Linked DNA regions of Homo sapiens. The protein of the gene in region 1 interacts with the protein of each later gene in a biochemical or structural test. Each region holds a gene or a part of one and is shown in the gene's direction. Other genes may lie near its edges.

Evidence for each region. Proteins that work in one complex are often made in the same cells at the same time.
Region 2: the proteins of PKP4 (region 1) and FRMPD1 interact in a test that uses a peptide from one of them, tested with the Homo sapiens proteins (one large-scale study listed by IntAct).
Region 3: the proteins of PKP4 (region 1) and SIPA1L2 interact in a test that uses a peptide from one of them, tested with the Homo sapiens proteins (one large-scale study listed by IntAct).
Region 4: the proteins of PKP4 (region 1) and GRIP2 interact in a test that uses a peptide from one of them, tested with the Homo sapiens proteins (one large-scale study listed by IntAct).

What each region holds. Positions count from the first base shown.
Region 1 is NC_000002.12:158,463,452-158,466,951, forward strand, and holds part of PKP4 (plakophilin-4), read left to right. Parts: intron 1-3,500. UniProt on the Homo sapiens protein: Plays a role as a regulator of Rho activity during cytokinesis. May play a role in junctional plaques.
Region 2 is NC_000009.12:37,706,454-37,709,953, forward strand, and holds part of FRMPD1 (FERM and PDZ domain-containing protein 1), read left to right. Parts: intron 1-962; coding exon 963-1,120; intron 1,121-1,945; coding exon 1,946-2,048; intron 2,049-3,500. UniProt on the Homo sapiens protein: Stabilizes membrane-bound GPSM1, and thereby promotes its interaction with GNAI1.
Region 3 is NC_000001.11:232,459,134-232,462,633, reverse strand, and holds part of SIPA1L2 (signal-induced proliferation-associated 1-like protein 2), read left to right. Parts: intron 1-1,472; coding exon 1,473-1,747; intron 1,748-3,500.
Region 4 is NC_000003.12:14,533,843-14,537,342, reverse strand, and holds part of GRIP2 (glutamate receptor-interacting protein 2), read left to right. Parts: intron 1-3,500.

The sequences.
Region 1 (3,500 bases):
CTCCCAAATCAAGAAAGGCTAGAAAAGAGGAAGGGGGTTTGGAATATACATGATATAAATCAACAGACAGTGGTTAAATAGATATCAAGAGGCTCTAGTTCTAGTCCTGGCTTTGCCACTATGCAGGTGTGTGTCCCATGAGCACATCATGTAACTCTCGTGGGCTTTAGTTTTCTTGTCTATAAAATGAGGGAGTTGGTCTAGATGCTCTCTAGAGTCCCTCTAGTACTTACATTTCGCAACTCTTAGAACATCAAGCCATTACATTTTTTCCTCAGCAAGAATATGCTGTCTTCCCAAGGATTTATGACAATTTACCCTCTGGGATAAGGAGGGAAAATTGAAGTTGTATACTTGAAATTCTCAGCTCCTGAAAATATGTGTCGCAGCCAGACAAACCTGTGACCCCTCTGTGGCTGAGTCAGTGGCTCCGTGTCTTGTGCGGTAGTGGTGAAGTGCTCCAGGAGTGAGGATCCCTGGGGCCCCTCGGGGCAGGAGCTGAGCAGTGAGCCTTTATGGAGCTGCACATCTGCAGTTTGTCACAGCCCTGACTTCTGGGACTTACTTGTCTACAACCAGTCCCCTGTGCACATTGGAGGCTTCACCTCTGATTGAGACTACATTTTTCAGAAGTTGGATAGAAACAAGAAAGGGGATTTAGCATGGTGGTTAGAAGGGACTAGTCTTGTTACAGTGAGAAAGATCCACTTCTTACTTGCTCAGATGGTTTGATTTGTCCTCAGAGAAGTTAAACAACTGACAGAGTTGCTCCTCTGAAAACATTTTGTATGAATACTTTAGGTTCATAGGGAACTCGTCAATCCATATCTCATAGAATAGAGGGACTTTTCATTCAAGTCTAATTTTTACATATAGACAATCTACCAGTGTTCAGAAATTGTGGCAGATTTCATGAGGAGAATTTTTTACTTGGATTTGTGCTCTTCTATAAAAAGTAATTTAAAAATTCAGTGATGAAAGTTTCTCCTAGACCCTGTTCTCTTCCTTTGTGGAGAAAAAAAATCCGTATAGAACTCTAGTATGTATTTATCTATAAAACAATTGTTTAAAAATATTGAGGTTAGCTCTTCCCCTTTGCTAATGCAATAAGCACATTATTTGCAAAGGGAAGCATTAATTATACTACTATTGTATGCAGTATTAAATGAATTGTCAATGTCACGATCAAAATAAACCCTTGAAGAACTGGCTGTTGTTCCCATACCTTCATGAGAATTGTAAACACTCATGTAAAATAGAAACCATTATTTACCACTTTGCAGTGAAATGGATCATGTGTTCTGACACCTGTACCCTGAGTTGAGTGGGAAACAGGGACTGTTTGATGAATTAAAGGTAACTTTATTCCTGTATACCACTAGGGGTGCAAGTGAGGGGACTGTAGACAATTAGTACTTTAGATATTTGTTGGAGTCCTGCTGTGTGTGCAGTATTGTGTTTCATTTTGCATACTTATTTAAAACGATACTACTTATTTGAAATGATTCATTTTAGTTCATTTTAACCAACATTTTTTAGTCCCCTACTCCATATCAGACTGATAGGCCTTATGGCCAAAAAGATGACTTCCTCCAGGGATACTTACTGTCTGTGTTAGATTCAGTAATGGGAGTCTCGGTCTTTAAGGAATCCATGATACATTTTTCAGTCTGGTTGGGAAAGATAAGACACATGAGGTAGAGAAGATTGTCCTAGAAATGTTGGTATATAAATAAGCATGTAACATTGTTTCATAAGTATTAAGGATGAGCTATAAAATAACTAGGTTGTAGCTCATACTTCTACTTGCTTAATTGTGTATTACATGATAAATTACCCGATTCTAGAGATATGCACTAACCACTCTCATTAGCTTTCTTTGGGAAAAGTCTGCACCAAAGATAAATAGTGATTTCAAAATAAGTTTTAATCATGAACTTGATTATTTTGGCTGTATCTCTTGAAACACTTTACCATATAGCCTATGTGAAATAATTAATCATAATGACAATACATGATTTATGAGAAACCATAATTTATGCTGTAAGACCTGCCATTTTATTACATTCTTATTTTTATTTTTCATGCAGCAGTATTTTCGTTTATTGTGTTTTGTGCTTTTCTTTTATTCTCTATGTAATTTGTGTGCCTTTATAAGCCCAAACTTGCTGTTGAAAATATTCCCTCCCATTGTTATGAATAAACAGAATGTTTCAAAATCTCTCGTGATGTATGCTAGAATAAATGGTCTCATTGAATCTTACTTTGAATCTCAGAATGATGCACTGATGGGAATTTTTCACTTACTGTCATTTTGTCGACAACTACATAAGCAGTAAGTCTGTTTAAAAAAGGCACTGACTAAGGAATCACAAAATCCAACTGGACTTCACAAGAACTATTAATACTATTAGTCTGAGACCTGTGATAAACAACTCAGATGTTAAAGGTCTAATTCAGACTGTCAACAGATGAAAAATAAGTGTCAGTCTGAAATCTTCGGATAGTATATCGGCAAGTGTCAGTCTTCCAAAATATTATTTAGAACTGTGAATATAATTTTTCACAGAAGCAACATTAATCCATAAATCTCCCGTCCTGTAGTGTAACTATAGTATATCAGTTCCATGGGAAAATAGTCCTGCTCTAAGCTACTCAACAGCAGGGACTTTATCTTTCTACAGGACTTAAATCTTGACCTCCAGTGGTTCTACATACCTTAAGTGAATGAATGAGTTTGAATTCTAGTTTTGAACACCTTCACCTGCTACTCTTGGATAATCGTGTCTGTTTGTGCCTAGTACCTATCCTCTGTCCTTTTGTAAACTGGTCTGAGACCCTGATACCATTTATCCTGCATGTTTCAAAGGAAAAAACTATTTAGACTTTAAAAAAATGCTTTTCTAATACAACTTGCTAGATAAATAATTCATTATACCAAATTCCTTAGTAAAGAAATTAACGGCTGGGTGCAGTGGCTCACACCTGTAATCCCAGCACTTTGGGAGGCTGAGGCAGGTGGATCACTTGAGATTAGGAGTTCAAGACCAGCCTGGACAACATGGTGAAACCCCATCTCTACTAAAAATACAAAAAAAAAAAAATTAGCCAGGCGTGGTGGCGGGCGCCTGTAGTCCCAGCTACTTGGGAGGCTGAGGTGAGAGAATCACGTGAACCCGTGAGGCAGAGGTTGCAGTGGGCAGAGATTGCACCACTGCACTCCAGCCTGGGTGACAGAGCGAAACTCCATTTCAAAAAGAAATTAATTAGAAGATTTTAAACAGATTGGTTCATATTCATTTTAAACTTAATTGCCTGGATTATAACCATAGTGAGATGAGTTTTCATAATGCTCTTTATCATACTACTAATAGGCACCAATCAAGCACCAAGACTAAGCTAAGCTTTGAAAGTGTGATATTGAGCAAACTTTCTGTATCTGTACCTTTTGTGAATCAGTAATATCTTTGTATACTCAGTTGAAGAGTTAAGACAGAAGT
Region 2 (3,500 bases), on another chromosome or scaffold:
TATTACTCCTTCACATTTCTGTTGTTCATAATGACAATAAACACCTCATCCCATCACTATTTGACCTTCCTCAGAAAGAACCACTGACTGTTAGAGGGAAAAATCATTTGCCACAGGTGAATGACAAATAACTTGTGACTCGCTTTGTGGTTTCTCTCTTTGAGAGATAGAAAATATTACTTTCCTGCTTTTAAGGAACATACATGTTTTAAAAGTTGATATAGAGGGAGTCCTTGCTATCTGAGATTTTATATTGGAAACCTTGCAGTTACAAAGCTTAAAGGGAAGCAAAATTCATCATAAAGAAACAAAGAAAAACATCACCAAAGACAAAATCTTGCTATAAAATTATCCGTCATCAAACATCTGAACCTGACAACTCCTTGTTTCTGCTCACCATCCATGTTTTTCCTCTCCTGTACCTCTGACTCCAGCAGTATGTCCTGCCTGGGATGCCCATCTGCCTGTTCTTCTGTCAGTCCGTCCATCCATCCATCCATCCATCCATCCATCCATCCATCCATTCATTCATTGATTCACTCAGCAGCAGTTATTGAATATCTTCTGTGTGCCAGGATCTGGGCTGTATAGGTATACCCTAGACATGTCTCAGAGTGCAGCTCAAATGCCACCTCTTCCAAGTACCAGATGCGTCCCTGATTCCCTATTCCCTGCCCTACAAAGGTGAAACTGCTCTCCCCCTTCTCTGTGTGTCCATAGCACTTCCTGGGCGCTTTCTAGATATTTAGCATTAGCTCATTAAGAATGCCTGGCAATACGACTTCTCTTTTAGAGGACAGTCCTAAGTTCTGCTAGTGGAGTTGGTGTCTTATTTGTCTCAAGAGGAGAATTGGTGTCTGCTCAGTTCTGCATCTTTCTCCATGATGCTTAGGGCTGACCCAGTTCGTGACCAACAACTAGAGTCTTCTCTTTCTCTTTTTTACATACTCCTTCTCTTCCAGGGCTAAAGTTGCTGCAGCTGATGGGCCCGCCAGGAACCCAACTCAGACCCTCATCCCTGTGCGACACACAGTAAAGATAGACAAAGACACCCTCCTCCAGGACTATGGATTTCACATTTCTGAGAGCCTTCCCCTTACAGTGGTGGCTGTCACAGCAGGTAGGGGATGACTGGGAAATGAGAAAGGAGTTTGGTTTCTTAAGGGGAAATAGCCCCAAATCTCCCCGATCTCTCTATCCTATAACAAAATGCAGAAAATCCTACCTGGGAAGTTAGAAAAGGCACACCTAATTCTGTCTTGGGCTTTGCACCTTACTTTGATGCTGGGAGGGAGGAAGCCTCAAGTGCACTTGCCGCTCCAAACCCCAGGCTCCCACTGGCCTTGGCTAGGGCGTTGCCCACCCTTGGCTCCCTGGCTGGTCTCAGGGGCAGTGAAAGTATTTGGCTAAGCTAGCCTTCCTCTTTGAACCCCACACGCTCCTAGCTGGGGATACTTTCTGGTCAGACAGTAATAGAAACCATTGATTTGTTTTCATTTGAACCTTGTGAAATACAGGCTGTACCAGGGTGGAGAGGAGCAGGTGGGGAAAGTCCAGTGCTTGTTTTCATAATTGAGGTGTGTTAATCTGGGATTCGTTAAAATGTATTGATTTCTATTTACTACACATACACACCAGAGTTTTTTAGAGATGAATGGAGTAGATTTACTGGCCAACTCTATTGATTTAGAAGGTTTCTGCTAGTTTTCTTTCTCAGGACAGTCTTCTAACATCCCTGGAAGTTGGTGATAGATGATAGGTACATTATCCATGGTTTATAAACAGGAAAATTAAGATCCACATGAGCCCAAGCCTGACTGAAGGCGGGGGAGTGAGCCAGTGCCCCTGGGAACTGGATCAGGGTGCCATTTAACTGTGCCGCTATTACACATAGAGTCTGGGTCCTCCCGGCATGAGCACCAATTACTTATTTTCTGTCCAACAGGAGGCTCTGCTCACGGCAAGCTTTTCCCTGGTGATCAGATCCTCCAAATGAACAATGAGCCTGCTGAAGACCTTTCCTGGGAACGAGCAGTCGATATTCTCAGGTACTAAATGGTCTTCCATCATCTACAGAATTGCACAGATTATCAAAGAACAAAGATGGGCAACAGGAATGGCATAACTGATCCCCTGATTTTAATAAGGCTAAGTCTCCTTTAAAGCAGCAAAAACAGCCTCGTTTTAGAGTTCCATCTATTAAAACGGCTTCTTGTTAGTGGCTGTTACAGTCCACTCTCTCTCACTTGCCTACAAAAGAGCTTGGGAGGCACAGAGTGCTGTATTTGTCAAAGCCCTGCTATGCCCAAGACACCGTGCTAAGCATGCAGGGAATGTAATGATCATAAATAACCCACAGGCCCTACCCTCTAAGGATTTATAGGCACGTTGTAACATATGCCAAAGATTGAACTAAATTGATGCCAAATCTGTTCTTCTTTATCCCTCTTGATATATCTTCTTAAATATAATTGCAGGTGCATCTTGGTTGGCATATATGTAGTTTCATTGATGTAGCACCTCCAAACCTTCTGTCTGGTGTCATTGTGACTTATGAAAATGCCTCGCTTTTTACCTAGACAATGATTTCCTGAGACCAGGGCTCAGTGGGTGCTCAGTTAAATGAGTGAATATGGTTAGCGCTGGGAATTGGCAACCCAGACTTTAAGACGGAGGAGTGCCATTGATAGGAGTGAAGAGGACAAGCAGACATTTTAAGGGCACATGAAGCTTTGGCTTTTAAATTTTTCACTCAACATTGTTCTAATGACTAGTATAAAGACAGACGAGAATCAGAGGTAGATGAAAGCTAACTTGAAGAGATATATATATATATATAAAATTCAGTTTGTGATTTTTCATGAATGGCTGATCTGGCTTTGGGGTGGTATTAATTGTTTTTTTTTCCCTTTTTTTTTGAGATGGGGACTTGCTGTGTTGCCTAGGCTGGTCTCAAACTCTTGGGCTCAAGTGGTCTTCCCATCCCAGCTACTCGGGTGGCTGAGGCAGGAGAATCGCTTGAACCCGGGAGGCAGAGGTTGCAATGGGCCACGATTGTACCACTGCACTCCAGCCTGGGTGACAGAACAAGACTCCATCTCAAAAAAAGAGAGAAAGAAAAAGAAAAGAAAAGCCAAGGAAATACACTGTAAATGCTGGAGAGTCCTCCAACTTGGGCAGAAGTTGTAGGCTGACAAAACAGAGAAGGGCCCAGAAATATTTCAGTTGTGTCTTTAATGCTGGGTAAAATTTGGTCCAAAAGATGGAGGTGAAGGGTGATTCAGGCAAAGAGGTAAACAGAAGCAACTGGGTGGGAAGTAGGGGCTGCTGAGCAGTTCAGTTTGCCTGCAGAAAAGTTCTAGGAAGTGAAGTCCAGATGATAGAAGGTCTTGAATGCCAGCACAGCATGTTTCAGTGTGATTCTCCCCCTGGAAGGGCGAGCAGTTGAAGGCTTCTGAGCAGGGATGCATGACTTGAGGTGTGCTGTGCATCTGTACCCT
Region 3 (3,500 bases), on another chromosome or scaffold:
TCAAGTTTTAGTTACTTCAGTTCATGACTTTAGAAACGTCAATATTCTAAAACATCATCACTAACTAAAACCAGCAGTCCCCTTTCCGCATTTTGCTGAGTCGTGAACTGTCATGCCTGTCTGGGAAAAGCTGATTGGCATTGTGTGCACTTGTGGTAACCATGGAAACATCAGACACAGTGGTGATACATGAACCAGCCCCAGTCCCACAGCTGTACTTACTGTCATAGGTCTTATTAAATAGGTATCTATGTAGTCAGAGCATGTTTCATAGAAATGGAGTGTTCATTAAACTGAAACTTCATACATTGCCTCTGGGCTTTTGGGGATAGGAGTATGATACCTCCCAACTTGAAATTCCCACAGATAGGTGAGGTCATAGTCATCGGGTGATACTTAATGAGCCCATGTTTTTCTTTCATTGGATGTAAACTATGCTCGGTGAGTGCTTTTGAGGGCTGCATTAGTGGTGCTTTAATGTACCAAGTGGGATGCAATCCACCATTCTTCTTTCATGTTCCTTTTTGTGGAACTGCTGTTGACTCTCTCTCACTCTTGAGTAAGGTACATACACTGAGGCTTCCATTGCTTGGGGCTGCCCTCAGCCCCTAGGAGACAGGCCTAGTGGAGGAGAGGCAGCCCATAAGCACAGAGGGTCTGTCTGCTGCCTGCCAGAGCACCATCCTACACACTTGCCTTGTGAACAGATGGCCAAGGAGTCTGGCTGGCCTGCCCCCACCATGGATCTGAGTGGTCCTCACCACTCAGGCAAGCATAGGCAGTTGTCTGTCCTCAAGAGAAGGACCCTAGGGGACAGAACACTCCACAGTATGTCCCTAGGGCTGGTGCGTAGAGAACATTTAGAGTTTTCCTAAAGCTCTGACTTTCTGCCACTGCCCTTCCTGAACCTCAGAGTGGGCTCTTAAGCGTTAGCTTTCAAGTGCTTTGGGGTGTTTTTCTTTGCTTGGGATGAATAAATTGTCTCATGGTTTTTAGTGCTTGCTGGTTGAAACTTGTAATGGTCCACAAAGTCTTTACAGGTTTTCCATTGCAAAAATCCATCTAGAACGATGGGATTTATATGCTTAAAAGTCAAGTCAATTTACCTAATAAAGGAAAAACGGGAATTATCTGAGCCCATCTGAAGCTCTCAAGCTCTGGGTCAGTGACATCTAAGAAAGCAGGACACCTGTATCAAGAACAGATATGACTTAGAATGAAGAATGAAACCATTGCTTTGCTTCTGTTATTTTCTTTGCACTTGATGCAAATGTTAATTGTGATCAGCTCTGAACTTAAATGTGTCCTTGTCCTGTCACTTGGACAGTTTGAGGAAAAGGCAGAGAGAGACAGGCTGGGCTGCGAGGGCCCAAGGGAGAGGGCTGGCATGGAGGCCCATACGTGCACCTTTGGCAGAGCCCCATGGCAGCTTGGGCAGGAAGGGCATCTCTAACAGTCTCCTTCCCCCTTAGATAGTGACGAGAGGCTGCGAGACTGTGGAAATGACCCTGAGGAGGAACGGGCTGGGCCAGCTTGGCTTCCATGTGAATTTTGAAGGAATTGTCGCAGATGTGGAACCTTTTGGCTTTGCCTGGAAGGCTGGCCTTCGCCAAGGGAGCCGCCTCGTGGAGATCTGCAAAGTAGCCGTGGCCACTCTGACCCACGAGCAGATGATCGACCTGCTCCGTACTTCTGTGACTGTGAAGGTGGTCATCATCCAGCCCCATGATGACGGCTCGCCCCGAAGGTAAGGCGTGGGAGGCCCAAGTAATGCTCACTCCTCCTTTGCCTCTGTAGCAGGTGGCTGTCCTCAGTGCTCCTGCAAGGTCCTCAGAAAATGCAGTCAAGTGTGTCTTTGTACAGTGTTCTGGGATGTCACTCATTTGTACAATGTTGTTGGGATGTCACTCGTTCGAGGAATTGAAAAGGAGCTTTAAAATATGTAATAGATGATAAAAAATAATTTGCTAAGCATTTTAATGGAACATTGACTACATTAAAGCTGAGCTATTCTGAACTAAGGGGAAGAGCACCTGCCTGGTTCCCCTGGACCTCTTATATCTAAGAGGAAATAATTCTGTATCACAGCTCAGCCTTGAGCACATTAAATACTTAACTATTCAGTTAGAATTTCTTCCCATAACATGAAGCCATTGATTATTTAAAAAATATTTAACAGACCAATAGTTGTAGGTATGAAAGAATGTTGGAACAGCACAGGTACTCTCTGTGGTAAATACTCCATTCTCAATTGAAGCTTGAGAGATGTTGAACTGGTTCAGGGCGTTATCATAAACTGTCAGGAGAAATAGATGAAAAGGAACGGCTAGACTTGGAAGGTTCAGAGGCGGATAGGTGGAGGGCTGGGATAAGAACGGGGTTAGAAAGCAATACTATTACATTACTAATAGAAAATAATCATGCCCAACATAAAATATTAGGCCAAAAGGAGAAAGAATGCTAATTAAGAAGGAGCCGTTTATTGAGGCTGTGGCCCACTACTTGTGTTAATGCATGACTGGTGGTAGTATCTAGAGCACCTTCCCTCTATCTTCATTCCCAAATGGAGTTCGTACAGGCAGCCTTAAGAGCTCTGGCTTTTGAGAGACAAAGTATGCTTGGAATCCAGGAATTTGCTGTGTGGCCTGGGGCAACTCACACACTCTCTCTAAGTCTCACTTACTCTCTGTAAGATGGGATTATTATATCGCCTACCTCCTATGATTTCAATGAAGATGAAATAAAGTAACACATGTAAAGCACTTAGAACCTTCTAGCATAATTGCCCCACACATTTAATTTAGAAAAATAAAACTTTAGGGGCTGGGCGCTATGGCTCACACCTGTAATCCCAGCACTTTGGGAGGTCGAGGTGGGCAGATCGCTTGAGCCCAGGAGTTTGAGAGCAGCCTGGACAACATGGCAAAACCCCATCTCTTCAAAAAATACAAAAATTAGCCAGGTGCAGTAGTGTGCACCTGTAGTCCCAGCTACTCAGAAGGGGAAGGTAGGAGGATCCCTTGAGCCTGGGAGGTCGAGGCTGCACTGAGCTGAGATCGTGCCTCTGTACGCCAGCATGGGTGGCAGAGTGAGACTGCATCTCAAATAATAATAATAAATAAAACTTTAGCATATTCATTTTAATTTCTTTCATATGAAAAAATAAATTCTGATTATCCAAAGATAGTAGGATTGTTGGGTCTACTTTCTGGACTTACTAACCTAGGTCATACTCTCTCCTTTCTCTGTTTCCTTTCTTCCTCCTTTAAGCCAGCACTCTCCATTAGCACTTTCTACAGTGATCTGTGTCTGTACCGTTCAGAGCAGTAGCCACAAACCACATGTGGCTATTACGTACATGAACTGTAGTGCAACTTAGGAAACGAATTTTTCCTTTTAATTAATTTACATTTAATTGGCCACGTGTTGCTAGTGGCTGCCATATTGGATAGATCAGCTAAACCATGATCTCCTTTTAGGAAAAAAAGCCACTTACACTG
Region 4 (3,500 bases), on another chromosome or scaffold:
CAGGGTGCGTGTGTAAGTTCCAACAGGCGGATGGGGAAGGCCTCCCTGAGGAGGTGACATTTCTACAAGTTCCCGAAGGAGCTGAGACGGGAGTTTTGATGATGTCTGGGGAAGAGTTTTGTGGGCAGAGGGAACAGCCGATGCAAAGGCCCTAGGGGGATGTGAGTCTGGTGGGCCTTGGGTCGAAAGGACAGATGTGTCCAGGAAGGCTTCACCTCCCTTTAGAGTGCAGTTGCCAAGGTGGGGTGGGCCCATAGGGTCAAATCTCCGCTTTGTCACTTCTGGCTGTGTAACCAGGAACAAGTCACTTAGCATCTCCATGCCTCAGTTTTCCCAGCTGTAAAATGGGGAGAATAACAGTGCCCAAGTGGCAGTGTGGTTATGAGGATTAAGTGAGAAAATGCAGTGTGCTGGAGTGGAGCTGGCCAGGGCGAGCATCAGGAGGTGAAGTCAGGGGACCGGGGACTGACAGTTGTGGTGAGGACTTCTGCTTCTACTCTCCCTGAGCTAGACACAGTCTTCTTGTGACTGCAGGCAGCCGCCATTGGGAAACTGAATGGTTCTGTGGGTGACCCTGATTTTGAGGTCACGTTCCTTGACATTGCTGGTTTTAGAGTAGGGCAGGAGAGCAGGACCCAGAACGCAGAAGGCCAACCCCCAACTTGAGACTGCGCCCCCGCTCTCCCATGGTGGGATGTTGGCCTGCGTGTGGCTCAGGCCTGCTGGACAGGAGCCCCTCTCCCTGTGTGGAGGAGGATTGTGGGGGTGGCGGCCTCTCCAGGTGATGCCATGGGTCCTGCTAGCCCTGATGCACCCAGCCTGTGAGTGCCTGAGCCCTAACTTAGGTATTCTTGGGATACTGGAGCTGTCACCTTCCCAGTGCCCTGATGCTTCTCATTTGGGGTCTGTTGCCCTCCTGTTTGGAGGGAAAGAGCAGAGCCAAGGGTTCAGGGCATGGTCTGTTGTGAGGTCAGGGAGCCCTGGGTTCCAGGTGCCTCTGCAGCTCACCAGCTCAGTGGCTTCTCTGGGCCTCAGGCTCCCTATCTGTAAACTGGGGACAATCGGTGAGCCTCCCTCCATGGTTCTTAGGACAATTAACTGACTTAGCATTCATAAAGTGCTTAGAGCAGGCCTGGCCCAGGGAAGGGCCCAACACTGGGTGCTACTTATTAAGGTTCTTTATTTTTTTCTTTGCAATCCTTGGCAACAAATGAATGAGGCTTCAAATTTTTAAATGTATTGATGCATTTCTTTTTGTCTCCCTGAAAAACGTGCTTCTGCCGAGCTTATCTGATCTTTCTATGCTGCTCTCCCCATGGAAGCTGGGCTTCCTGGGAGGCTTGTCGCCCGTGGGGATTGGAACTGTCATTCAGAGGTCAGCCTGTAACTGGCTTTGAGGCATCTCCATCGAGCCCTTGGCCTGTTCCAGCCCTCAGTGGCCAGGGAGGAACGCCCAAAGGAGCTGGGGCTCTGCCTGGAGCCGAACAGCCCCGGGGCTGCAGGCATTACAGCAACTTCCAGGCTTGCATGGATGGGGGAGTAGGCAGGAAGGTACCCAGAGGGTAGGGCCAGACCCCTTAGGGAGCCAGAAGGCCTGGGCTTCAATCCTGGCTCTGCCACTTAGAAGCTCTGTGCCCCTGGGCAGTTCCCTTGACCTCTCTGTGCCTCATTAGGCCTGGGTTCAAACCCTGGCCCTGCCCTTTATCATGGGATATCACTTAACCTCTCTGTGCCTCAGTTTCCTCATCTGTAAAATGAGAATCATGATTATACCGCCTCAAAAGTGGTGAGGATTAAATGAGATCGTGCTTAGGAAGCACAGAAACCAGCACTTAATCACTAGGAGCCATCATCATGATTGATCTAGGAAAACCTTTCAACAAGGTGAGGGAAGCAGGCAGGGAGGGAACTGCCATGTTTTATGGTTTCTGTGCACACTTCCCCACAGTTCCTCCCAGCAACCCATGAGGTGGGCACCAGTACCCCCATTTTGCAGAGGAGAAGTCTGAGGCTCAGAGAGAAGTGACTTGTCCCAGATCCCTTAGCCAGTTGGCAGCCGATTTAGAATCAAAGTCCCAAGTTGGACTGACTCCAAAGCCTATCCCTCCCTTCCCACCATATCAACAATCCCTTCCATGGTGGGGCGAAGCTGGCTGGGGCTGGACCGTCACTTGGTGGAGTACTTAGCGCCCATGTCCTCTTCAGCACCCAGGGTCCCGGTGAGCTGGCATGGTCCTGGCCGACAGCTCACCGTCCCTGCAAATCATGTCCTGTTCGCCCCAAGTGGAGCCTCTGGGCATTTGTTTTCTCAGTGGTCCCTTTTGAGATGCTGAGTCCTCCCTCCAGGAGGCTCACAGAACAGGGCAGCAGTCAAAGCCGGCTGACTTTATAGTCCCACCCACTCCCCCACGCTTCTTTCCAGCCACCCGCTTAGGCAGGACCCTGGCGAAGGCAGCCTGGCAAGGAGTTGACTTCCTTTTCCCTTTGTCAAAGCTCAATAGCCCCCTGAGGCCCCAGAGAGCGGGAGATAATGAAGGCAAATTAGCCATGATTTCAAGAGAAATAAAATAAAAAAGAAGGCCACCCACCCCGGCTGCAGCGTGGGCCTGAGTACCAGGTGCACAGGTCTGAGCTCCAAGCACGTTTCTCCCTCTGTCCCTCCTCCCCTGACTTGCACACCCCACATTCGCCGGGACTGGCTGGCACCACTGCGGAAATGAATTTTCCTCTGAAGCGAGTTCCTACAGGACGATTGACTGAAGGCAAAAGCTCATAATTGCCCGTTGCTGGAAGGAGGAGACAGGGAAAAAAAAAAACATGGATAAAAATATCTCTGTTTTTTATGCACGTTTCCAGCTGAAAATTGGTGGGAAAGATGTTTTTGAAAAGCCTTCATCTCTAAGCATATAATTACCAGGTCCTGGAACAAAAAAGAGAGAGTGGGAGAGAGCAAGCATGTTCTCTGAGGAGGGGGCCTAGGGTCTGACCCCCCCAAGGGGTTTTCTATAAATAAAGTAATCCCCTCAACTTCTCAAGCTCTGGCCAGCTGGAGTCAGCCATGGGAGAGACACCCCCATTTTACAGAGGGGAAAATGGAGGCTCGAGTCACACAGCCAATTGTAATTCTAACCCTATTTTGATTCTTGGTTTGGATGCTGCCTCAGTTCCCCCCCATCTGAGGATGTTCGTGAAAGAGAGGCCCTATGTCCCCTCTGAATAGGCATCAGCAAACACTGCAGCATTCCTTCCGGGCACCTTTCTGACTATGCCAGGGGGTCTTGGGTGCTCAGAAGCCTCTCATCTGGCAACTCGCCTATCAAGAATGGCTTCTTGACTTCCACAAGAGGCCACCAAGGGCACACCCTGAGATGCCTAGGGAAGTCTCTCGAGGCCTCGCCTGCTGCCCACTGACTCTTTGCGCACAGTAGTATGACTTGTTTTGCAGCACGCAGTCAAGTCTCTGACAGCTGGGAAAAGAGATGGCTCACAGGCTGAACCCC